Homo sapiens: one gene and its partners. The protein of the gene in region 3 purifies or fractionates together with the protein of the main gene of each other region. This does not show direct contact. Each region holds a gene or a part of one and is shown on either strand. Other genes may lie near its edges. The genes, in order: DMAC2L, GARRE1, MYH13, LYST, MKNK1, NIN and PLEKHG1.

Region 1 (3,500 bases), on a different chromosome or scaffold from region 3:
CTATTATCCAACCACGTTGGGTGTTATTTATCTCTTTATATGTTATCTCTCTTTATTAAATTATATGTTCTATGAGGTCAGGAACCTTGTCTTTCTGTGTGTCTCTTTCTCCTTTGTTCTTGTTTTTGTTTGTTTTGTCTTACCATTGTTGCCTTTGCACTAAGTATAGCAGACATTCAATAAACATTTTTTGAGCGAATGAATGAATGGACATGGCATTTGAGTAAGGTCTTGAGGTTGGGTGGGATTTCCACAGATTGATGGTGATGGGGGAGGGAGGCTAAGAGAAAACAGCCTGAGTAGAAGCTGGGAAAGCCCATATTTGTAAATAAGATTGACAACTAATAGAGTTATTCAAGGTGGGCACAGGCAGAGAGCGCTTTAACAAAAAGTTGGAAAGGGTTGAGAACATGATAAGAGGTAGTGGAGCAGAGGCTTGCAGTAATGAAGACGGCTGTAGTGAAAAAGGGATGAAAGGGTAGTTGGTTCTGTCTTCAGTTCACATCTCTCACTGTTCCACGGCCTCAGCATCCTCAATCACTTCCTCAGCTTTAAGGTGTTTCCCTCTCAGGCATCTTTCTAGTCCTCTTCTTTCTCTTGAATTCCAGAACCATGTAATGATTGAGGAAAGGACCCTGGGCTGGTAGAGAACTGGGTTCAGGTTTCAACACTGCCACCAATTAGTCATGAAACATTGAGCAAGTCCCTTTAAACACATGCATTTATTAATACCCCACCTTGTTTCAGAAAGGATTTAGGATGTCAGGAAGTTACTTAATATCAGGGCTTCAGTTTCCTCACCTCTAAATGAGAGATTTCATCCAGGTGATCTAAATTCCTTACAGCTCTAATGTTTTGTGACCTCTGATTCCAATGATTTGTTGGTCATCTGCACTTAGAAATCCTGCTAACACTTAGTATGTAGATTATGAAAAACTAAAAGAAAAAAATCTGAACCTATAACCCTGTTCTCCTAATGTGATTTCTTTTAATGGCATCACCATCCTACTACCAGTGACCCAGGGCCAAAACTTGGTGTCATTTTCAACTCCTCTAGCCCTTGCCCCTACATCTCACTTAACTGAGTCATATGGAACTAACTATGTAATGTCATTCCCATCCTTCCCCAACTAGGCCCTTTCGTATGGCCTCATGTGATTGAAGCCCTTGCTGACTGGCTGTCCCATTCTGTTGACCCTTAATCTTGATGCTGCTGAGTCAATTTCTTGAAGCACAACCGTAACAATGCCAATGCTTTGTTCTATTTTATTTATTTATTTATTTTTGAGATGGAGTCTCACTCTGTTGTCCACGCTGGAGTGCAGTCTGGTACAATCTCAGCTTACTGCAATCTCTGCCTCCCGGGTTCAAGCGATTCTCCTGCCTCAGCCTCCCGAGTAGCTGGGACTACAGGCGCATGCCACCATGCCTGGCTAATTTTTTATTTTTTTATTTTTTGGTATTTTTAGTAGAGACAGAGTTTCACCGTGTTAGCCAGGATCGTCTCGATATCCTGACCTCGTGATCTGCCTGCCTCGGCCTCCCAAAGGGCCAGTGCTTTGTTCAGAAACCTCGGTGACTCCCTGCTACATACAGAATACAGTCCAAATTCCCTGGCTGAGCATGCAAAACACTTCACGACCTGACTGTGCAAGTTGCCTGCCTCTTCTCATGACTCACATGTGCTAGTGAAACTGAAAATAACATGCCTTAAATGTTCCTGCTTCAGCTAATAATCTGGCATAATTTTTCCTGGCACCTTTGTTTGTTGAAATCCTTTCTGTCCTTATTTTAACTCTTTTGAGGCATTTATCAAGTTCTGTCACTTATTTTAACTACTTGATAACGTGTCTTAGCCCACTCCATCCTGCATTAAATTGTCAGATGCTCAAAGCAAACACCATGTTTCATTTATCTTTGTCTCCCCATCTCCTCCTCCCTGCCACATCCAGTCCCCTGCACACACCTAGCATACTACTAGGGAAACTTGAATTGAGGTCAATCAAATCGAAACCTACTCCAGGAATCACTTTCTCAAATTATGGTTATACATTTTGACAGCTGGAAATTAAGCAAATCATCTCATTTTACAAATGAGAAAACCAGAGGTCAGAGAGGTGAAGTTACTTGCCCAGTCTTTCCCAGCTGCCCTTAAAACAGTTTTTTTGTTTACACTGCTCTGGTAACACCACTTGCAGCCTTGTCATAGGTAGATCTATTTTCATGTCTCCTCTTCTTTCCTGGATGCAAGCATCTTAACCTTGACACGTTGCTCTTTCGGTGATTTTAGTCTGTCATTTTGATGCTGGAAATATAGATGGGGAATAGAGGAGCCAGCTTCAGCAAATTCATAGCTACAGCGCCTGAATGGACACTAGATGGCAGTACGACAGGCAGACTCCAATTGAGGTTTCAACAGTGGAACTTAACGTTCTAGCCGGAAGGAGCCTTAGACACCATCCAGTCCAACCCCTCATTTTTTTGCAGCAAACAAATAAAAAACCCCAAGAACAAGAAACAGGAGTGACTTGCTCAGTAATTGTTGAGTGGCAAGTGAGTCATCAGCTTTATCAGTACAAGAGCATTGACTCTGAAGTAAGTTGCTATATGTATGGGACTCGGATGATGATCTAATGTAAGTACTGTTTTGTGTGTCTAGATCAAATGATGCCGTTTGGAAAAATTTCCCAGCAGTTGTGTGGCGTAAAGAAACTCCCATGGTCATGTGACTCCAGATACTTCTGGGGCTGGTTGAATGCAGTGTTTAATAAGTAAGTTACTCTAAATAAAGTGAAGAAATGTGGAGATGGTTACAGCTAAATAAGTTCCCAATAGCTTGTTTGGCTATTTCTCATATTTACAGTTTGTGCAGTGTGATCCTAATTTTGTTTACAAACAAACAAAACCCACACAAACATGGAAAAAACACCAGAAAAACAGATTACAAAATATTAATTGTGGCTGTTTGGGTTGCAGGATTTCGATGATTTTTCTTACTTGTCCTTTTGATATATTTCAAGTTTTCTAAAACATTTTATAATCAGAAAAACTTATTAAATATAATTTTAAAGTATTTTATTTTTATGGCTTTTTAAAGGAATGTAGTTAACCTTTTGAATTCTATCAAAGTAACTTGGGTTTTCAAAAAATTAGTGGGTGGCACACTTAGAAATGTCATTTTGAAACTTGAAACTAACCTTCTAATTACTTAATACAGCATTATGATCACTAGCTAGAGAAAAAAGCATATGTAGAAATTAATAAATATCACTTAATGAGATTAATTTGACCACAGATTCAGAATTATTTTCTCTTTAATCTTTTGTTATTAATACAAATTCTAACCAAGTATAGTCATTCGTAGAATAGTTACTAAGTATCTCTGGTGTCAAGCACTGTACTATATGTGAATCAATGAAACGTTGTGTCTGATAAATTCATATAAAAATAATACGCCTTGACAGCGTTCACGTGGAAACAAAAACAAAACTAAAAAAGTC
Region 2 (4,277 bases), on a different chromosome or scaffold from region 3:
TACTCTAGGTACCTTATGTAAGTGGAATCATAGGATATTTGTCTTTGTGACTGGTTTCTTTTGGCATAATATCTTCAAAGCTCATCTATTTGCATCGTAGCTGGGATTATAGGCATGCGCCACCACGCCTGGCTGATTTTGTATTTTTAGTAGAGACGGGGTTTCATCATGTTGGTCAGGCTGGTCTCGAACTCCTGACCTCAGGTGATCCACGCGCCTTGGCCTCCCAAAGTGCTGGGATTACAGGCGTAAGCCACGGCGCCCGGCCTCCTTCAACGCTGAGTAATATTCTATTGTTATGTTTATACCACATTTTGTGAACCCATTCACCCGTGGATGGACATTGGGTTGCTTCCACCTTCTGACTAATATGAACATGGGTGTACACATTTATATCCACTCTTGCCTCCCCTCCGTAGTCCTTCCTTCTCCACACTGCATCTAGAGTAACCCCTTTACACTCTCAAGTATGGACAAATCACCTCTTGCTTAAAACTCATTAGTTTTGCAACACTGTCAAGTAAGACCTAACTTCTCACCACTCTGATTTATTATTGGAACACAAAACTGGGCCATGCTCCGTGGCTCAAGCACTTTGGGAGGCCGAGGTGGGCGGAACACCTGAGGTCAGGAGTTTGAGACCAGCGTGGCCAACATGGGGAAATCCCGTCTCTACTAATAACACAAAAATTAGCCGGGCGTGGTGGCGCACGCTTGTAATCGCAGCTATCCGGGAGGCTGAGGCAGGAGAATCACTTGAACCCGGGAGGTGGAGGTTGCAGCGAGCCAAGATCACGTCACTGCACTCCAGCCTGGGCGATAGAGCAAGACTCCGTCTCAAACAAACAAAACCCACAGAACTGGAAGACCCTTGCTGCTGCTTCTGCGTAATGTGTTCTCCTCCCTTCTCGTTTTTTTTTTTTTTTTTCTCCCTTCTACCCCTTAGGACCTCAGCTCCTGCTCTTTCCCTGGGGGAATTCCGGATCACTCTCCTTTACTAGGTCAGGGTACTCTCTCCCTCCCTCTTACTCTTTCCCCTCCTACCACTTGTCACCATTGGTACTATATTATCACCCGGATATGTGACAATGGTATTGTGTATTTACCACTAAGGAATAAACTTATGAGGGAGAGAGCACTACCCGTTCCTGCAGTGCCCGTCGGGGCCTGGCATCTAGGAAACACTCCATACGCCAGTAATCGATTTCAGTCAATTTCAGTAATAAATCCAGGAGGACGCAGCCCGACCCCTCCCGCCCGGGGGCCAAGCCATGGTGGGGGATCTGGGTGGACCTCCGGCTCTGGCCGCCAGTCCTCAACCTCCGCCCCGGCCGTCCCGCTTGGGGGCCCAGGGTCCCAGGAGAGGAGGCTCCGGGGCGCCCCCTCCCCTCTAATGCGAGAGGAGAGTCCGCTCTAGGCGCGGGATCCGCAACCTCCCCGCGTCCGCCCGAGGCGGGGGCGGGGCCGGACCGGAGACGTAACTTCCGGTGTACACAGCCGGTCCAAGGCGGTGCGCTGGGGGCCGGGGCGCGTCGCAGGTGAGGAGCGGGCGCGGCGGGCGCAGGCGGGGGCTGGCGGGCGGGGTCGGGCGGTGGGCGGTGGGCAGCGGGGCCGCGGGCCGCAGCCAGGGCAGACGGCGAGACGGGCCCGCGGGGCGCCGCTCCGCTCGGGGCCGCAGGGCGCGGGGCCGTGGGCTCCCGCCCCTTGCCCGCCCGCTGTGGAGGACGCCGGGCTTTGCGGGCGCTGGCCGGCCGACGGAAGCCCGGAGGGGCCTCCTGGCGCGAACCCGGGACCTGGGGGCGCGTCGGAGACTCGGCGGCCGCGGCACCGCAGGGGCGGGTCGGCGCCCGTCAGGCGGGGAAAGGGGACGCTCCCTCGGTTCGCCGGGGCCCGGGAGGTCGCGCTGGCGCCAGGACCCGCTCCCGGAAGCCCGCGGAGGGAGGGCGGCCTGCTGGCGGCAGGGGTCCGCTGGGGCTAGCCGGGGAGGCGGCCCTCACGCCATCCCGGGGCTGCCGGGCGGGCTGCGCGCACCTTCCCGGCGGCGCCAGGCTGCCGAGGAACGCGCTTTTCCGGCCCTGCGGAGCCAGCTGGCGCATTGGGCCCGAGGGGAGGGTCCGCGGGGACCGGGAGGGCCGGGGCTGAGCGTGGAGGACCCGAGCCCGAGGGACGAGCGCAGAGTCAGGGGTGTGTCTTTCTGCGCCGCGCGGTGCGAGGAAAGAAGCGTGCCTGGTTGGCATGATAAGAATTTTGTTTAGACTTTTTAGAAATTTTCCAGAGACTCAGCTTTGGGGGCCTCCAGTTTGAAAATACCTTGTTCTGGTCCCTCATCCCCATTATAAAAGCAGTTAATTCTCCTTTCCTGGCAAAACACTCAAGACGACACAAAAAGTCTTAAGGTAGAAAATGACAGTCATCTGCCAGTCTACCATTCAGTGACAACCACTGCTAACATTTTGGTGATAATCAATAAATACAGATAGGTATTGTTATTTTTATGGACTTTACAGTATGTGATTTAACCACCGATGAGCATTGAGATAGTTTCCAATTTGTCACAAGATAAACAATTCTGCCGGAAGGATTTGTTTGATATGGTCTTTTTTTTTTTTTTTTAATAAGAGACTGTTGCCCAGGCTGGTCTCAAAACTTCTGGCCTCAAGCGACCCTCACGCCTTCGCCTTCCAAAGTGTTGGGATTACAAGTGTGAGATATTACACCTGGTCTGATTGTTATCTTAGAATAAATTTACAAATGGGGTCAAAGGTAACTTTATTTGTTTTTTTTTGAGACAGTCTCCCTCTGTCACCCAGGCTGGAGTGCAGTGGCGGGATCTAGATTAACTGCAACCTTAGCCTCCCGGGTTCGAGCGATTCTCCTGCTTTAGTCTCCCGAGTAGCTGAGATTACAGGCACCCACCACGCCCGGCTAATTTTTGTATTTTTAGTAGAGACAGGGTTTCGCCCAGTTGACCAGGTTGGTCTCGAACTCCTGACCTCAGGTGATCCGCCTGGCTCGGCGTTCCAAAGTGCTGGGATTATAGGCGTGAGCCACCGTGTCCGGCCGTAACGTTCAATTTTTAAGAATACATAGTATTTGTTTTCCTTTGACATATTTGGACAATTTTTCTGTCTCTTTGTCATAAAAAAAAATTCCAGCCTGGCGCGATGGCTCATGCCTGTAATCCCAGCACTTTGGGAGGCCGAGGCGGGCGGATCACTTGAGGTCAGGAGTTCTAGACCAGCCTGGCCAACGTGGTGAAACCCGGATTCAACTAAAAAAATACAAAAAAACACATTAGCCAAGCATGGTGGCGCGCTCCTGTAGTCCCAGCTACTTGGGAGGCTGAGGCAGGAGAATCGCTTGAGCCCAGGAGGCGAAGGTTGCAGTGAGCCGAGGTCGTGCCACTGCGCTCCAGCCTGGGCAACAGAGTGAGACTCCATCTCAAAAAAAAAAAAAAAGAAATTCATGTTTGCGTCTCATCGTTTCATGGTTTTATTTTTTTGCCTTTAGTCTACCTAAAATTCATTCTTGGTTTAAAATATGAAATATTTTGTAAATGGCTAGTCAGTTCCAGATTTATTGAATAATATGTAAGCTTTATCATTTTATCATATTTTAGACTAAAAGTTCTAAGTGTATGTTTGTAAGGGCTACTTACAAAGTTCATATTTACATTTTGTGTGTGCTTAGATGTTTTCAAGTGTCTTTAAAAATCACAGTATTTTCTTTTCACAGTATCTTCACAATATTTTGTTTTAAAAAGAAATCATTTTCCAATACAAGTACAGGGAATATTTCATGTTTGAGATTTTTTTTTTCTTTTTAAAGCAAAAAGTTTAGTTTATTGCCGTTTCATTTGCTTTCTTGCTGACAAGATAACAAACTCCATATGAAGAGTTCAGGTTTGTTGTGGCAACTTTTCAGTGTGGCATTTGAGATTCTAATCTTCCTCTATTTTTGCACACAAATACGTAGGTTGGCATTGGAGACCAAGATAGAAAAGTTCTCAGATTCCCTTGGCAAGCCTAGATTTTTCAATCTAAAATTATCTCCAGATGTTTGGAAGACCATGTTTTAAGCATCCTTTTTTTTTTTTTTAAGCAAATTGCACATGATTCTGTGAAAATTTTAGTAAATGTTTGTTCTGTTGAAAACCTATAGCCTAATACATCAGGATCCATGTGTCAAGTGGGTCTTCCAAGTCTATAGGAAATAATTGTTTCTGAAAGCTAGCAGGCTGGGATATCACATGGGTTGGGTGTCCACTCTCTTTTTTT
Region 3 (3,927 bases):
CCTGATCTTAATTTTGTAATCTCTTTCCCAATCAATAATACAAAATCAGGCTAGTAAAGACAAACTTACCACAGAAAGAAATTATACCTGAGAGGCTGGCCATGAAGGCAAAGACAGAAAATCTAAAAAGTAAGGCCAAGTGTGGTGGCTCACACTTGTAATCCCAGCATTTTGGGAGGCCGAGGCGGGAGGATCACTTGAGGTCAGGAGTTCGAAACCACCCTGGCCAACATGGTGAAACCCTGTCTCTACTAAAAATATAAAAATTAGCTGGGCGATTATAGCACATGCCTATATATAACACATGGGATTATAGCACATGCCTATAATCCCAACTACTTGGGAGGCTGAGACAAGAGAATTGCTTGAACCTGGGAAATGGAGTTTGCAGCGAACCAAGATCACGCCACTGCACTCCAGCCTAGAGGAGAGAGCAAGACTCTGTTTCGATAATAATAATAATAATAAATAAAAGTATACACCAAAATTCACAGCAGGAACAATTAGTGCAGGCATGATCCACTAAGAACCAGATCCTTGATGACTTTATTATATCATCTCCCAGACCCCCAGAGTGATCAAGAAAAACTTAAATTCTATTCAAGATAGTAGGTTACACAGAGCAGGATAATGTAAAATACATTTTGGAAAGCTTTTCTTCCAGTAGATTTTTAAACAAACAAATACATAAATAAGACTGGATGTGTTAAAAGGTCAACCTTAAATTTCCAGAGATTTCTGAGATGAGAAGCACACCATCCCATACCAATGCTGGGTAAATGAGGTGTAGTTACTGTCCACACTACTGATCACCCATTGCTTGACAAAGCATCCTGTGGTTCTGCCCTTCAGTGACCTTCTTAGCACACTCTGCTCCAGTTCCACTCAGCCCCTAGGACTCTCTAAGTCTCAAAGATCTGTGTCCAACGTCAAAATCCCTATGCAGCTGACTTGGCATTATGCAGCCTCCACTGGTCATTTATCCAAGTAACTTAACAAGAGTGAGAGATCAGGGCTACGACGCATTTACATCTAACAAGTAAATGGTGCTCCCCCAAATATAGCCAAGTTAGAGTGCTGGGCTGGCAGATTTGGGAGTATAAAGAGAGCTGGGGGGTCACACTCCTGAAATTGCTGTGACCGCAGCATCTCTAGGTAAGTGCTCACAAGTGCTCACTTTTTTGCTCCACGTAGCTATAGTTGCACCTGATCAGGTTACCAGTCAAGGGGGGAAGACAATAAAGTAGCCTTTACGGAGGGCCTACTAAGTGCAAGGTCTTGTGTTGAGGGCAAGGTTGGAGACAAGATGGAAAGACAAGACAACTGCCTTTCAAGAAACTTTTACAAGGGGTGAAAAGACAAGAATATAAGCAATTATAAGACAAAAAATATTCACCTGCAGAACAAAACTGAGTATAATGCATGATTCCTCCTCTGATTATTTAGGTCAATGTTATACTGTTCAGTTAGCAAATTAACTTGGTAACTTGTGGTATCTCTTCTGTGATTGCTTAAGCTATTATTTGAAATTTTTATGTTTATTTAATTTGTTTCCCATGTCAGGATTTCTGAAAAATGGTTGTGGGAGGAAATAATCCCAAGCATCTTACCCATCTTACAAAGTGTCATAGTCTGATATGAATTGACTGGTTTGCAGACTGTTCTCACATGGCATATTTTATGGACTTGGGACTGGACTGTGTCTGACAGTGCAATAGCATCCCTCAGAGATTTGTGATACTTTGAATTCAGGCCACCATCTCTACGGAGAACTGTCTGTTATAGACTCATAGGGCTGAAAGGAATCTTGGAGATTTTCTGGTGCATCTGATTCATTTTACGGAAGGAAACAGAAACCCAAAGAAATCATACCAGCTACTTAACAGAACTGATATTAGAATTTCTGTAGCTCTGCCTCCATATTTTTTTAAATTGAGGATTCAGAATATAGTATGTAATACTTTAATTTTTTAAGAAATTGTGAGAATTTTAGGATATAACTGGAGATTATTTAAGATGCATTAAAGACGGAGAAGGAAGGAGGCAACAAGGATAGTAAACCAAATCCTAAGTGTCTGTTCCTGCCTAAATAGGGCTTCATGAAATATTCCCCTGGCTCCATAAAAGCACTGAATGGTAATTGGGAAGTTTGCTTAGATTACATTTGATATTGAAAATTTTTCAGACACTCATGCCTCCTTGAGATAGCCACGTAGTTTATAAACTCCTAGAGCTGAGATTCCTTAGTCCCAGGTGACTTTTCAGCTGCCCTACCTTCATCATCTGCAGGAGGAATTTAGAGCATTGAAGAGAATAAAGAAGTCTTTGTCCACAATTTATAACTTTTCTCCTATTGCCAAAAAAAGGTGACTGCCCCTAAGCATCCAAGCTGCAATCTGGAGCATTCCCCTCCCTACTTTCTTTCTTCCCTGACCCCTCACAGCCCCCCAGTCAGAAGCGGTTTCTCTAAGTTCCCATAGTACTTTGTTTAGACTCCTTAAAAATTTGTCTTAATCCTGTTCAAAGACTTACTTGAGCATTCTCTTATCCCTTACTAACTTTTGCATTCCTATAGGGCAGATACTGTACTTTCCTCTTCATACCCCCTTAAGGAGCTGACACAGTACATTGTACACACAGAAGTTTCTCAAGAGAGTATTAATTAAATGTTGTAATTAACCAACTATTTAAAGAATAATGATTTTAATCAAAAGTAAAAATTCAAAACAGCAAATTTATTTCATTCCACACCATCTACTGTGTATCTATTTAAGGTAGATAAACTGGAACAAACATGGTTTCTATATTTATTTAAACTCTTTGTAGCTCATTTGGGTTTTTTTGGTTTGTTTTTTTTTCTCAAATTATCCCCAGGAAGACGCTTTATTCCTGAAGGACACTGACTGTCACTTGGGAACCAAGAAGGTAAGGGTTATTTTCAGCTTGATCATGAATGCAATCATTGAAATTAGCAAACATCATTTTACACGTTCTCATTCTTGCCACACTCATAAGAAGACGAAATTGATGAGTTTGAAACCAATAACTTAACTATTCTTAAAGGTAGATTTTAAAATATATACAGGTTTTACCAAAGGAAGAATGGCTTCTCCTATTTGCTCATTACACTGAAATGTACGAAATATAATGCAGAATTTTGACATACAAGCTCCAAGTCAATACACAGTACTTAGTTGGCACAGAACATGATGTTCATAGGGTCCAAATGCAGTCTTCACACAAAGGCTAACTTTGCTGCTCCTTGAGCAGAGTCTGCACCCATGAATCCACACAGCTGCACCTTCCCTCACGTGTAATACTGAAGGAATGGGGAGGGATCCGTTCAATCCTATGCCCGGTGCGGTAATAAAAACCCTATCCCCTTAAAACGTGTGTTTATTAGAGGTAGTTCTAGATGAATTGGGACCAAAAAAGCCAAGCTGTCATTGAATCATGAGCACATCATTGCTGACAAGACACAGTAGCGGTGAAATTCCCAGGAGAGGGATGAAAGTTGAGAGTAGTGTCATGGTACACAGAGGGTAAACAGAGAGAGAGGAGCCCTCACAAGTGGGTGATGGAGATTAGGCAGGCGGGGGTAGTCATCTCAATTAGAAGGCCCTTAAAGACAGGAACAGAGTGGTTGAAGGGGCACAGCTATGCAACGTTGGAAGCAGGTCCTGCTCTTGGAACAGAGAAGAGGCTAATTAAGGAAACTCTAGAGGGTGGTGCTCAGTGGGCAGCATGAGTCATGCCTAGAGACTTGGGTCAGATCTAACAAGGTGAAGTTTATCAGTCAAAAATGAATGGTCTTCCCCTGGGTCCCAACTCACAGTTGCACAAATATAGGGAGAAGATCTGACTTAGCAACTGCATGCACGGAGAGGATTGAGGGGCTTTGCTCGACACGGAGTGGTGCGTCAGCAG
Region 4 (3,500 bases), on a different chromosome or scaffold from region 3:
GAAATTAATTTTTAATATCTAGGCATATTAATATTCAGTATTTAGAGATTTAAACTCACCTTGGGGTGTAGGTTCTTTAGTTATTCCTGTTTTATTTCTAAATAATAAAGATAGCTTTAGCACAGTTTTGAAGTTTTATGTTAACTATAAAAGATTAACAGTATGGAAGTATACAAAGTTAAAAGTTCTCTTATTCCCACATCTACCCCCTGCAAACTCCCTAGAGGGAACTACTGTTAATTGTTTGTTACATTTCCTTCCACATGATTTTTAACAAATAAACAAATATAGAGGGCTTTTTAGGGAGAGTAATTTTAGTTTGCATAATTAGATGATTTTTTTCCCCTCTAGGTTATGGAGCACATGGGACTTAAAGCCTGTGAGAGAAATTACATTTCCCAAATCAAATAAGCCCATCATCAGGTAAGATCTTCTCCCCCTCTTATGCTTCAGAATACAATTTGTGATTGTATTTTTCGTAGAGAGGTATTTAAGCACACAGACTTAAAGAAATGTGCAATTGAAGTCATCATGAAAAGCCAACCACTTAACACACAGCGGGTTGTCCGTGACCCAGCAGCAAGAGAGACCACACTCCTTGTCTTCATGGAGCTTAAAATCCGAGTCAGTGACTCAGAGTCTAGTGGAAAGGCATGCTTGTAGTGTGTCTCTGGAATCATAGAGACTGTATTTTTTCCTTTCATATTTGACAAGACCATAATGGTGATTGATAGCTGCAGGGGTGCTTGACAAAATAGATAAATAATCAGTTACTCTTTGCTTAGTTAACAAATTTGACTTTAAATAATTAGAAATAAAGTGATTCAAATTTTACTTTATTAAATTAAATGTATTTTCAGTGTACTAAATTTAAAGTTTAAGGAACCTAAATTAATTACTAATGTTACATTTTTTTCCTTTTCTCTTTTAGGGAAATAATATATAGCCATAAAATACTTATTTATCTTTATAAGGAGAAAATATAGTACTGTTATATTTTTAAAAGTTTTGTACACCCAAATATTTGTTGTTTATGTAATAAAGCATAAACAAGGAGGCAAAAGAAGATATGCAAAGAATAGAATGTACTGAGCTTTGTGATCCTGATTTTATTCTATATCACCGCATTTATGAGCATCTCAACTTGTCAGCAGAGTGACTATGTTAGAATTACAGTCAAAACCAATGAGTTGTAGGCAGTCATTTAGTTTATGTCTCTCTGCGCCACTGAAGATAACTTCTTTACACTAACCTCAGTATGATGACCAATATGCTAATACACTTTTAAGAAATATAATGTACAAATGGGAATTTTTTTTTTTTTACAGCCTTACATTTTCTTGTGATGGCCACCATTTGTACACAGCAAACAGTGATGGGACCGTGATTGCCTGGTGTCGGAAGGACCAGCAGCGCTTGAAACAGCCAATGTTCTATTCCTTCCTTAGCAGCTATGCAGCCGGGTGAATGCGAATGAACTTCACGTTCTCCAAAGCACTTTAACTCCAAACTAGATTTGTTGACTTCACCAGTTTTAGGAGGTTGAACCTAAAGAAATGGATGACTGGACAAACCATCCAAATAATGATAAAGTCTATTCATCTGCACAAAATTCTGAAGAGTCACATGATCCTAAGAGGAAAGTTCTGTTCTATTTTAGTGATAATCTGGAAGATTGTGTCAATATGCACTAGCCAACAAGTTTTAAGCCTCGCATGGTACATTAAAATGATATTCTTAAAATTTTTTCCCACCAAGGTATTCCAAAGAAAATATTAAGGTCTCCCCTTTTTCTATGATTCCAAAAGGACCAGTAGAATTTAAATTGGTTGGTTGATTGTTTATATAAAACACACTAAAATTATATTTTAAAAGTTTACTGCCATGAAATACTCCTCCCACCACACACACATGCTCCAAAAGAGGAAAGAAAAAAAGATAATTTTTAGGACTTGATAATTGCTTTCTTTGAGAAGCAAATTATTCAGTAGGTGCCTCTGTACCAAATATTTTATGGAATATCTAAATACTAAAATAAACTATGAATGAATCTCAAAATTAGGCAGTTTTTGCCAGTTGCTTTCTTAGCTCAAAGGAGAACCAGAATTTTTTTGACAGCCACAAACAAGAATACAGGTATCTTGGATTTCAGACACATTCTGTTTCTTCATAAAAATTTTACTTAAAATCTGTAACGCTAGATATTGACTATCCTTAGTTGAGTCACTGAGGTTTAAACACAATGGTAAGTCTTAAAGTCTGCTATTTACAGAGCATTGAATCTGTACCAATTTGCAATAGAAAGCCTTCAGTATGCAAGAAGTTTGCATGGGTATTAAGAACACAGCCTAAATAAGGCATTTGATCTAATCTGCAGGAAGAATTTTCTTCCCCAAAACAGAATTATAAAAGCTTACTTTAAACAGGAGGCAGAATAATTCTTTTAGGAAACCATTTCATTCTGTTTCTACTAACCTATACCATCTGAGAATTCTAGGAAGAATAATAAAATCTCGTGTATTCCACAGCAAACTTACATACCATAAAGACAGAATTCCTAAACATCTTGGAGCCGTCTGTCTCTCCCATATGATGGCTGTCTGTATATTTTTACTTGGGGTGCTGCTTTATTGGCTTTGAAAACACTGTCAGATAAGCTCAGTAATATGTTACCATGGGATAAAAATATGTATCCCTGCCTAAGAATAACTTGTGCATTTGTTATGGAAATTTAATTCATATGGTGTTTACAGTACTACTTTTGTAACTTCCAGACTTTCTAAAACATTCTGCTTAAAAACCATATAAAATATAATTCCAAAGTCTCTGCTGTCAAGATAGATTCGAGAGAAAGCACGTGGCCATGTATGCTTTAACCTTAAACTGCATACACATGTAGTGATACCTAGGCTGCATTTAGATCACCGTGTGCTCAGGCCAGGTGTGAATCCTGAGGTCCATGGAGGTGCAGAGATGAGATTACTCCTATTCACGTTGAAGTGATTTGCTTTGTTAACAAAAAATTGCAGCTATTGTCTAGCTTTCATTTTTTTACTGAGAACTTTAAATTAGTCCCCTATTAGAATAGGGTTGCTACTCATCTTTTTTTAAAAACCGAATTTCATCATTTATCTAAAGAGAAAATATGCAGAATAACTGGTCTTGTTAAGAGTGCAATATTATATTTTTATGTAAAAATAAAAATTAATTTGGGGGGATTATTTATTCAGCATGAAACCTAATATGTATATGTTTGAAATACTTCATAATGTGCATGTTGTAGCAAACATTTCTGTAAATTATCACAAGCTCTGTTACCTTTATATACACTGCCTCTTCAATTTGGAAATAAATTTCATAAAAATAGATGTAAACACCTCTTCTTTAAGCTATTTAAATATTATGAGCAGATCTCAAATCGATGGCTTTCTGTGTAACCCACATAGGTTCTGTCTTTAGCTCCACTATGCATTTATATCACTAGAAAAAGATAACTTTCT
Region 5 (3,500 bases), on a different chromosome or scaffold from region 3:
TGGTTGCCCCATACCAGAGCCTCTGCTAGGTGTAGGGGTCCCAGAGATGAAGGAGACATAGTCTCTACCCTGTCCCTGGCTAACAGTCTAGGGGAAGATGCGTAATAAAATGTTACAGGTAATTTAATTATGCACAAGTGTAGGAAGCTGGGAATTGGTTAGAGCAATCAGGTGGAAATACAGTCCCTTTTGACGAGACTGCAGGTTAAGACTCCCATAGAGGGTTGGTCTGGGACAAGTTGATGGAGGCCGTGAGTGACAGCACAGAAGCTTGGTTACTCCAGAGGCAGTGGACACCCATTAGAAGTTTTAGAGCAAGGAAGTAACAGGTCGAGATCTGGCTTTTTGGACCAAGGGTAGAGATGCCATAAACCTTAGCCTTACCTGTGCCTCACTGATGTTTTCTGTCTTGAAAGTAATGTGATGGATCTTTTGTTTGTATACATGGTGATTTTTTTTTTTTTTTTTGCTCTAAAACGTCTGTAGAAGGTCTAGTTCTTAAGCACTGAAGAAATTTAATTCCCAGTACAGCAAGAAATTCATGAACAATTGAGAGAGAATTGGGTGCCTCGCCAGGCCCAGCCTACTTAAGACCCAGCTGCAGGCCGATGGATCTGTGTAGGTTTGGTCTGGCCATGGTCACCCTTCCCCACCCCAGCCCTATACCAGCAGGAGGTACAGGAATGAGGAGAGGGCTCCAGGGTCCATCTGGGTAGTTGGTAAAGAATGCTAAGAATCTTTAAGAACTGTGAGAGTCAGAAGTAATTTTTGAGGAGGAAAAAGGGACCAGAGGAATTTTAAATGGTGCCAGAAGGAATTAGGGCTAACCAGGCACTTAGAATCCTGTGACATGTATCTGAAAACCTCCACATTCTCTCTCTGCCTTTGTATTTGCTGTCAGTTTATTCCCTCCTGCGGCCAACTGTGGTTCACAGATTGGCTGGGTTGCTTTCCAGAGCTGCAGTTGATCTGGAGAAGCCATGTCAGAAGCTGGAATAAGAGTTACTATTGAGTGCCTACTGTATGCCAGATACTGGTGCCACGAGCTCTATATACATTAGCTCACTTAATTGCCATGACAACTCTGTGATCTAGGTGTTATTGCCCCATTTTATAGATGATGGTAGTAAAGCTCAGAGAGTTTGAATTTTATGTCCAAGGCTACCCGGCTGGTAGATGGTAGGGCCAGAACTGGAACCTAGGACCTAATGCCCAAAAGCCCTGTGCTTTCTACTTCCCCAGCCTAAGGTGGCTCCACGTGGCAAAATAACACAAAGCCCATAAGGAATTCTGAGGGGTTTTTTTTCTACTGTAGGCCAAGGGTTGGCAAAGTATGGCCCACAGGCCATATTTGACTCACTGCCTGTTTTAGTGTGGATGCAAACTAATGTACTTTTTACATTTTTATGTGGTTGGGGAGAAATCAAGAAAAGATCAATATTTTATGACACATGAAAATCTATGAAATTTAAATTTCAGTGTCCAAAAATAAAGTTTTATTGACATATAGCTACAATCATTGATTTACATATTGTCTACTGCTTTCTCTCTACAAATGCAAAATTGAGTCATAACAAAGATCATGTGACACACAAAGCTTAAAATATTTACCATCTGGCACTTTACAGAAAAAAAATTGCCAACTCCTACCATAGGTAACAAGAAGGGACCAGGTGGGGGTCTAAACCTATGACAAGACTAAAGACAGAATGGAAGCTCAAGGCCAGGCGTGGTGGCTCACGCCCATAATCCCAGCACTTTGGGAGGCTGAGACAGGCAAATCACGTGAGCTCAGGAGCTCAATACCAGCCTGGGCAACATGGTGAGACCCTGTGTCTACAAAAAATACAAAAATTAGGCGTGGTGGCTCGTGCCTGTAGTTTCAGCTACTTGGGAGGCTGAGGTGGGAGGATCACTTGAGCCTGGCAGGTGGAGGCTGCAGTGAGCCAAGATCATGCCACTGCACTCCAGCCTGGCTAATGGAGCCAGATCCTGTCGTTGGATGGTGTTCAAGGCTGTCCCTGGAAGTGTGGTAGTAGAAGTGAAGAAAGAGAGCATACCCTGAGTTTCCTTAGGCCCTGGAAACAGTTTTACTGGGTTTCAGATTTGTTTGGGAATAAAGAGCATAGTAGGAAGGACTGTCCAATGTGCTAACATCTTTATTGGATGTTAAAGAGATATTTCGTGTATTAAGTAATTCATTCAGATTCACTAGAGCCCATTTTTGCCAGATACTATGTTAGATGCTGGTAATGCAAAGATGAAAAAGGTAAGTGCTTGCCTTTGAGGAATAACTGGCAGGATGACGTGATCTGATAGGGAAGAAGAGAAGTCAGAGGAAGGAGGCAGTGGGTGGGGGTTGGGCACAAGTCCCACTTGGGGCATGTGGTTTGAGGTCATGGTGAAACACACCCAACTTCCAGTTAGAAAGCCTTTTTAGAAATTTTGGCTCAGAATTCAGAGTTAAACTGCATTTTCAGGGCTTTTCCACCGAGAAAAGGGGAAATGCATATTTATTTCATAGGGAAGTTGACAAAGCAACTTTGACTTGTATAGCTAGAGCCATGGTATTAAAATAACAGTGAACATAGAGAAAATGAAGTCATCAGATTGAAAACTAGCAATAATTATGTATTCGACACAAAACCTTGTTCCCATTCATGCCACCTCCTGCTCTCAGCATCTACTTTATCTTTCGGGCTCTGTTTCCTCTTGCCTGTGAGACTTGGACTTGGCCACTAAGAGAGAGAGCCCAGCTCATTTCTCTAAAAACGTGGATAGCAGAGGAGTGCCTCGCTCTGTCACCCAGGTTGGAGTGCAGTGGCATGATCTTGGGTCATTGCAGCCTCGACCTCCTGGGCTCAAGCAATCCTCCCACCTCAGCCTCCCAAGCAGCTACAGGTGTGTGCCACCATGCCTGGCTAATTTTAGTATTTTTGTAGGGATGGGTTTCACCATGTTGCCCAGGCTGGTCTTGAACTTCTGAGCTCAGTCAATCCACCTGCCTCAGCCTCCCAAAGTGCTGAGATTACAGGCATGAGCCACCACACCTGGCCTGTCAACTTTTATCTTTTGCCTGAGACTCCTCAGAGCAGAGGTGTCTTATCTCTATCATCCAGGTCCAGTTACATCTTTTTGGGTCTGGAATCCCATAATGGAAACAGAATCTGAAAAATTTCACTCAGACCTTTGTTAAATCTTCCAGTGCTTAATGGCAGTGGGGATAGAGAGGAATTAGAAGCCACCCCTTCCCAAATAATCATTGCTAATAATTTGGCCAGCCTGGGCAACATAACAAGACTCTATCTCTACAAAAAATTTAATTCAAATGTCTGATTTTAAAGATGGGAAACCTGTGATTGCTGCGTGTATATCTACTTAGTGGGGTAACTCATAGGTTTGGGGCACGTTCAGATTGATCTTTCTCTTTTCTGGTCCTTTTAAAGAAGTCAGCATTTTGATTTCCTTTCTATTTCTGCTTTTTCAAGGTTTCCATGTCA
Region 6 (3,500 bases), on a different chromosome or scaffold from region 3:
CTGAGGATGTGGGTTCCCAACATAGAATGTGCTGCTCTATGAGAAAAAAGAATTGGAAATGCCCTACACACATAAGCCTGTCAGAGCCAAAAGAAATTAGAGAAGTGGATTGGTGGGAAGGACTTACTTTATCTTCGAGCTCCAGTCTGAGGCAACATATGTCCCTGTGATGTTGTTCTTTCATCTGTTCAATGACCAGCTCTGCCTCAATGCTCATATTCAATGGATTGCATTCTTCAGAACCGAGCCCTGAAAACACATGGGACTCATTGATCCTGCAGCAGGTTCTTTCAATAACACAGTGTGGCATCTGAGGAGGGACATCCAGTTTAACTAAGGAATGATTTTCAGCCTGAATTACCAGAGATGTGAACTAATAGGAAATAACAGAGGCCAAGAGAAGTCTTTTCTCTTTTCAAGCGTTAGGGCAAACAAGAAGAAATGAAGGTGAACAGATTCTTTCATGTACAGGCAGTGGAAAAAACCTTAATAGAATCCATCTCTTAGAATAGTAGGTGGTGGGGCGGCGGGGGTGGAAATTGTTGCTTATAGGTAGCTACCTCCTAATGCAAATGCTGCAAATTGAGGTAATAGCATGAGGTAGTTTGGTCAAACCAACCAGACTCCTACCCATCCAACAAATACTGAATGACGATGTGGCAGGAAAATGAACGGCCAGCATACTTGCTGCGATGCCCTGAGGAGTTAGCTTCATGGGTCACACTATCAACAACCCATCACTCAGCATTACAGAAGACTGCCTATTTCCTATGAATTTCCTAGAGTGTGGGTAGATCCCCATTTTATCTTATCAGCTATTATTGGCTAAAATTATCATATTTTAGCTATTATCAGCATAATTTTAGCATATTATCAGCTAAAATTTTAAAAAACAGGGCATAGGTTAGGAACCAGGATACAGGCAGTTGTGGGTAGAAATTCTTAACTCATGCATGAGCTCATCTCTGCAACTGCCCACGACGATGACTGAGAATGACACTGAAAATGTGAAGCATAAGTTGGGGGCTGAGCTTGTACACAGAAGAAAAGATTATGACTAATCTCTTAAGGCAGTGGGACCCAAAATAGCTTTGCATGTGGGGATACACAGGCAGATGGAAGAAAGGAACTTTTCTTGGGTATATGTCTAGCAGCTGCAACTGGCAGTCTTGCTTTGGGTCTTCTCTTCATATTTGATGGCATATTCCCAAATGAGAAGTAACACCCAGGGTGTGAGCCACACCACGATGGTACAGCTTCTTGTCCTCATGAGGAACAACCCCAACACTTGGCCATCTATGGAAAAGTCCATAACAGCTGCCGAGATATATCATATTATGAGATCCTCAGACTGGAATGAGCTAAGAATCAGAGGGGAGGTCTTAAGGCCTCTTTGTCTCCTCCTTCCCCAATCTGTTAATTATTCTGCAGTAAGAGGAGGAATAAACAACCTGTGTAAGAACGACACTCCTATCCCCAATAGCACTGGGGAAAGTTATTTATAACAGAATAACTGATTATGAGCTGTCTCTGAAATTTAAACTCAACACCCCCGAGAAAAGAGGTAGGCTATCAGGAGAGAGGAAAGGAGCTCATAGTTAATGCAGGAGGCTCCCAAACTCTGCCTTCCAAACTTGCCACTCAAAATCTTCCTCAAAGGCCAGGAGGCCAGCCCTTATTTATCTTCTTTGTTCTGCTGAGGCAATACAGACATTCAGCACAGCCCGTATAAGAAAACCAGCTATGGATTCTGTAGTATCTGGCTGGCCTGCTCTCCAAAACCATCTTCATATGAGTTACACACTCTCTTCGAAGAGGACAGCAATAGCTCAGTGTCTGAATTCTAACACTCCCAAGGCCTGGATTCCCAGATTTGCAGCCAGTTTTTTGTTTGTTTTGTTAACAAAGCAAATACCCTTGTGGTTTGATTCTTCCATTCCTTTGTTGACGCATATCAAAATCAGATGGAAATGTTCTCATAAAAACTTCAAGGACAAATGAAAAACGAGACCACAAGTGAAACAGCTCAAGAAAAGAGTATGGCCAAATTCTTTTTTTTTTTTTTCTTTTTTCAAGTTGCCAAAGCTTTGCAATTTTATATTGAACCACGTTTCTAAAAACAAGAGTAAAGGCTTTATCTACAGCCTGTCCGAATGTGTTTACCGTGTTCGGGCTCAATGCCACCGCTGTTAGCCTCAACTTCTTCTGACGGTGAGTTCTTCAACGGAAGCCTGAGCACTCTGCCTTGTGCACGATATTCTTCCAGCTCAGACTGGAGTTCATCTACTTGGTCTTGTAGTACCTGGGATTTAAAAACCAACACTGGTCTTAGATGTGACACCAAAAGCATAAGCAACAACAACAACAAAAAAGATAAATTGGATATCATCAAAACAAAATCTTTTGTGCTTCAAAGGACACTATCAAGAAAGTAGAAATGTTTTGCAAATTAAGTATCTGATAAGGGACTTGTAACTAGAATATATAAAGACTATTATAGCTCAATAATAAGACAATTTTAAAAATGGGCAAATGATCTGAATTGATATTTCTCTAATGATGATATACAGATGACTAATACATACATGTAAAAGATATTCAATATCATTACCTATCAGGGAAATACAAATCAAAGCCACAATAAGATACCATTTCACACTTACTAGGGTGGCTAGAATCAAAAAGACATACAATAACGACTGTTGGTGAAGAAGTGGAGCAATTGGAACTATCATACTAGTGGGAATATAAAACAGTGCAACCACTTTGCAAGAAGTTTAGCAGTTCCTAAAACGGTTAAACATAGGGTTACCATACAACCTAGCAATTCTACTCCTAGATATATGCCCATACAAAAACGTGCGCACAAATTTTCATAGCTGCGTTACTCATAATAGCCAAAATCCCCCAAATGTCCCTTAACCGGTGAATTAATAAACAAAATGTGGTATATCTACGCAATGGAATATTATTCAAGAAATGAAGAACTGATACACGCTACAACATGGATGAACTTTAAAAACATTATGTTAAATGAAGGAAGCCGGTCTCAAGGGCTAATATTGTAAGATTCCATTTATATGAAATGTATAGAATATGCAAATCTGTAGAGACACAAAGTACACTAATAATTGCCTAGAGCTAGGGGGCTTGGGAGAGATTATGGCTAAGTGGAGAAGGGGTTTCTTCCTGGGGTGATGAAAATGTTCTAAAATTGAATGCGGTGATGTTTGCACAATTCTGTCAATACAATAAAAGACTGAATTTATACCTTCAATGGGTAAAACATATAGTGTATAAAGCTGTTAAGAAAACAAGTGGATGAGGCTGGGTGGGCAGATCACCTGAGGTCAGGAGTTCAAGACCAGCCTGGCCAACATGGTGAAACCCTGTCTCTACTTAAAAAAAAAAAAAAAAAAAAAAAAAAAAATTAGGCGTTTGGCAGACACCTGCAATCCCAGCTACTCGGGAGGCTGAGGCAGGAGAACTGCTTGAACCCA
Region 7 (3,500 bases), on a different chromosome or scaffold from region 3:
CTTTGCTTAATCAAATCCTACTCATCTCTCAAGATTCTCCATAAGCCCTATCTTCTCCTTACTTGAATCCTTTTCTGATTTCTCTTCTCTGAAGTCTTACATAGTGTGTACCTAGCTGTTGCCTGTGTGTGCACACACACACACATGCAGACACACACAATTTGTATTGCTGTGTTGCTAATTATTTTATGTAGGTTACTTTATTTTCATTTTATGTTTTTTTGAGACAAAGTCTCACTCTGTTGCCCAGGCTGGAGTGCAGTGGCAGGATCTTGGCTCACTGCAACATCTACCTCCTGGGTTCAAGTGATTCTCCTGCCTCAGCCTTCCTAGTAGCTGGGACTACAGGCACCCACCACCACGCCTGGCTAATTTTTGTATTTATAGTAGAGACAGGGTTTTGCCATGTTAGCCAAGCTGGTCTCGAACTCCTGATCTCAAGTGATCCACCAGCCTTAGCCTCCCTAAGTGCTGGGATTACAGGTGTGAGTCACTGCACCTGGCCATTTTATGTAAGTTACTTTATTAGTCCCTGAGCTTTTCTTTTCTTTTTTTTTTTTTTGAGACAGGGTCTTATTCTGTTGGCCAGGCTAGAGTGGAATGGTACAATCATAACTCACTGCAGCCTCAGACTCCTGGGCTCAAATAATCCTCTTGCCTCAGCCTCCTGAGTACCTGGGACTATAGGCATGAGCCACTGTGCCTGGAAATTTTTAACTTTTAAATTTTTTGTAGAGAGAAAGTCTTGCTATGTTGCCCAGGCTGGTCACAAACTCCTGAGCTCAAGCAATCTTCCTGCTTTGGCCTCTCAAAGTGCTAGGATTACACGTGTGAGCCACCTCGCCTGGCCTCTGAGCTTTTGGTCTGGGAGAACAATGCTGTACATTTTGTTCAACTCCCTATAGAGGACCTAGCATGGTTTAGACAGAAAGTGGTCTCAATAACTAATTCATTACTCAGAATTTTTTTCACTCCCTTCTTTATTTTACTTATTTTTTAATCTTTTTGAGATGGAGTCTCACTCTGTTGCCCAGGCTGGAATGCAGTGGCGCAATCTCGGCTCTCTGCAACTTCCACTTCCCAGGTTCAAGCGATTCTGCTGCCTCAGCCTCCAGAGTAGCTGGGATTACAGGTGCCCGCCACCACGCTTGGCTAATTCTTTGTATTTTTAGTAGAGACGAGATTTCACCATGTTGACCAGGCTGGTCTTGAACTCCTGACCTCAAGTGATCTGCCCGCCTCAGCCTCCCAAAGTGCTGGGATTATAGATGTGAGCCACTGCACCCAGACTCCTTTCATTTTAAGCCTACTTTTAAAAAGGGATGCACTTTCCTGAGACCATACCACTGGGAGTGGAAAGGTGGCCTGGAAATCAGGTCATAAGCAGAAAAAGCAGAAGCAAGAAGACAGCTAAAATGCTTCCTATAGATAACTCATAATGGGAACAGTTTATCTTTGGATGATAGAGTTGACCATTTATCAATTTTGAATAAAAGGTATCTCACTAGTAGGCAATAGAGGTGTGAGTCACTGTGCCTGGCCATACAGGTGTGAGTCACTGCACCTGCTGATCTAAGGGGCTTTTTGTTTCAGCTTGACCTTCTAAGAGAGTCTATAGCTTGTGTGACATCTATGTGAACAAGAGACAAGCTTCCAGAGCTCCAGCTGTAATTAAACAGATTCTATTAGCCAGATGTACAGGGAACAGCCAGCCTGAGATGACACCTCTGGCCTAAAAAGCTTAGTATTAGTCAGCTGAGTTGAGGCTCCCCCATATCCTTAGTTCTAGTATTAACAGTTGTATAGAATATATACATTATGACTACATGACAATCGCAAGAATGTCTCTGGTTTATTGCCTTTTTTGAGATTTGAAAATTGGAGTTCTTATGATCTCAGACAAAAATTTAGAATAATGTTTGCCAAGGGAAATATCAAACAACATTTTAATCCTCCAGACAGAGGATTAAAATAAATGTTTCTGATGTTGCTCGAGATGCAGACAAAAGCATAAAATTGTGCCTTCCCTACTCTACACAAGGAGGAAAATTTCTCAAGCCTGTATGGAGTTTTCTCCCATGTGAAACATCACCAAAAAACCCAGAAACCCAAAGGCCTCCTTGCTCTCAAAGACTATCAGGAGGAAGGTCTGATGGAACAAGATGGCCAGCATGCTATGACAGGCTCTAAGATATGGGAGCAACTGGACCTGGTTGGGTGATTTATAGGCAGAAATCTGACCCAGGGCCTGGAGACCCCGGCTAGAGAGTTCAATAAAGATGCTCGAGAGTTTCGGCAGGTGAATAAGGTGCTCCTCCTTCCGCACAGCACCGAGAGCAAGCTCCTGGCAAAGCGGCAAGGCCCACACGGAGAAGTCTGGAGAATCGGTCCATTCGATTACGACGTCCTGTGCCCAGATAAACAAGAAAGAGAAAAGGAGTCATCATGTCAACTGACGGAAAGCCTAGTGGGCACAGGAAGTGGTCTCGATCACCCAGCTGGACGAGGTGTGGATATAACTCATCAGGTCCTAGGGACGTGCCTCTGCCAGATGGCAGGGAAGACAGCACTCTCAGAAGATGACTCGGGAGAGATTTCCTCCTCCTTGCTGGGGAGAACGTCGACAGGAGCCCACCATGTCAAGAAAGGACCCAGACGCAAAGCTGAGAAAAGATCCTGGGGCATCCCAAGACAACACCAGCAGGCAAAACAAAAAGGAGAGCCAACCAAAAGTGAAAAGAAAACCCCAATGTGAAATCATTTAATACTTAAAAAGGTGGGTAAAAAAGAAGACTACTCGAGGTAGTCGTAGGCCCTAATGATTCAGTATCAAAGGACATGCTTCTGTCAAGATTGGAGCTTTGTATTTTAACAGATGGTCCATATTCAAAACAACCTGGCCCAGGGAATTACTACTTTTTCAGTGGTAGTCTGTGGGCATAACCCATCATCATCAAAAACTTCAGCATTACATTTCCTCTTATGCTGAGGAGCCCCAACCCAGACTTAGTCAGTGCTTGCAATTGCCAATATACAACTGTTTCTAAGGCCATATATATTCCCCTACCCCACCAAAATTGTCCTCCTGCAGCGGGAACTCAGTCACTTTCCCTGTAACAGCAAACCAGCTTAGCAACGCTAGCATCAGAATAGGGACTTGAATTACTCATAGTGCATCATGGCAAGGAGAAAAATACATGCATTCTAGTCTCACATGCATACAAAACCTTCATTTGATTAAAAAGAAGAACTCAGAGTCTGTGAAATCCTTCAGGCATCAATTCCAGCACTTTGTTTCCCTATCTGTTAAGAAATTGTACTGAAGATTAAAACTTTAGACAATTCTTAAATACTCTCAAACTTAAAAAAAAAAGTTCCCTACAGATTCTTGTTATGTAACTTGTGCATTCATTTAAGATTTGGATATGCCCTTCCTATTCTTCAGTTTCCATGGATGTCAATGTCAATCCCAAAGACAGCATTTAATAGTTAGTGGCATC

The links.
Region 1: the proteins of MYH13 (region 3) and DMAC2L purify together in Homo sapiens (affinity purification with mass spectrometry; one large-scale study listed by BioGRID and IntAct). This does not show direct contact.
Region 2: the proteins of MYH13 (region 3) and GARRE1 purify together in Homo sapiens (affinity purification with mass spectrometry; one large-scale study listed by BioGRID and IntAct). This does not show direct contact.
Region 4: the proteins of MYH13 (region 3) and LYST purify together in Homo sapiens (affinity purification with mass spectrometry; one large-scale study listed by BioGRID and IntAct). This does not show direct contact.
Region 5: the proteins of MYH13 (region 3) and MKNK1 purify together in Homo sapiens (affinity purification with mass spectrometry; one large-scale study listed by BioGRID and IntAct). This does not show direct contact.
Region 6: the proteins of MYH13 (region 3) and NIN purify together in Homo sapiens (affinity purification with mass spectrometry; one large-scale study listed by BioGRID and IntAct). This does not show direct contact.
Region 7: the proteins of MYH13 (region 3) and PLEKHG1 purify together in Homo sapiens (affinity purification with mass spectrometry; one large-scale study listed by BioGRID and IntAct). This does not show direct contact.

The regions. Positions count from the first base shown.
Region 1 is NC_000014.9:50,318,824-50,322,323, forward strand, and holds part of DMAC2L (ATP synthase subunit s, mitochondrial isoform a precursor), read left to right. Parts: intron 1-1,739; exon of another isoform or gene 1,740-2,553; intron 2,554-2,659; coding exon of another isoform or gene 2,660-2,664; coding exon 2,665-2,771; intron 2,772-3,500. UniProt on the Homo sapiens protein: Involved in regulation of mitochondrial membrane ATP synthase. Necessary for H(+) conduction of ATP synthase. Facilitates energy-driven catalysis of ATP synthesis by blocking a proton leak through an alternative proton exit pathway.
Region 2 is NC_000019.10:34,253,077-34,257,353, forward strand, and holds the start of GARRE1 (granule associated Rac and RHOG effector protein 1), read left to right. Parts: upstream 1-1,477; 5' UTR 1,478-1,538; intron 1,539-4,277. UniProt on the Homo sapiens protein: Acts as an effector of RAC1.
Region 3 is NC_000017.11:10,370,207-10,374,133, reverse strand, and holds the start of MYH13 (myosin-13), read left to right. Parts: upstream 1-1,127; 5' UTR 1,128-1,155; intron 1,156-2,874; 5' UTR 2,875-2,925; intron 2,926-3,927. UniProt on the Homo sapiens protein: Fast twitching myosin mediating the high-velocity and low-tension contractions of specific striated muscles.
Region 4 is NC_000001.11:235,660,907-235,664,406, reverse strand, and holds the end of LYST (lysosomal-trafficking regulator), read left to right. Parts: intron 1-351; coding exon 352-423; intron 424-1,328; coding exon 1,329-1,467; 3' UTR 1,468-3,366; downstream 3,367-3,500. UniProt on the Homo sapiens protein: Adapter protein that regulates and/or fission of intracellular vesicles such as lysosomes. Might regulate trafficking of effectors involved in exocytosis.
Region 5 is NC_000001.11:46,594,269-46,597,768, reverse strand, and holds part of MKNK1 (MAP kinase-interacting serine/threonine-protein kinase 1), read left to right. Parts: intron 1-3,488; 5' UTR 3,489-3,500. UniProt on the Homo sapiens protein: May play a role in the response to environmental stress and cytokines. Appears to regulate translation by phosphorylating EIF4E, thus increasing the affinity of this protein for the 7-methylguanosine-containing mRNA cap.
Region 6 is NC_000014.9:50,761,663-50,765,162, forward strand, and holds part of NIN (ninein), read right to left. Parts: intron 2,303-3,500; coding exon 2,164-2,302; intron 250-2,163; coding exon 128-249; intron 1-127. UniProt on the Homo sapiens protein: Centrosomal protein required in the positioning and anchorage of the microtubule minus-end in epithelial cells. May also act as a centrosome maturation factor.
Region 7 is NC_000006.12:150,833,885-150,837,384, reverse strand, and holds part of PLEKHG1 (pleckstrin homology domain-containing family G member 1), read right to left. Parts: intron 1-3,500.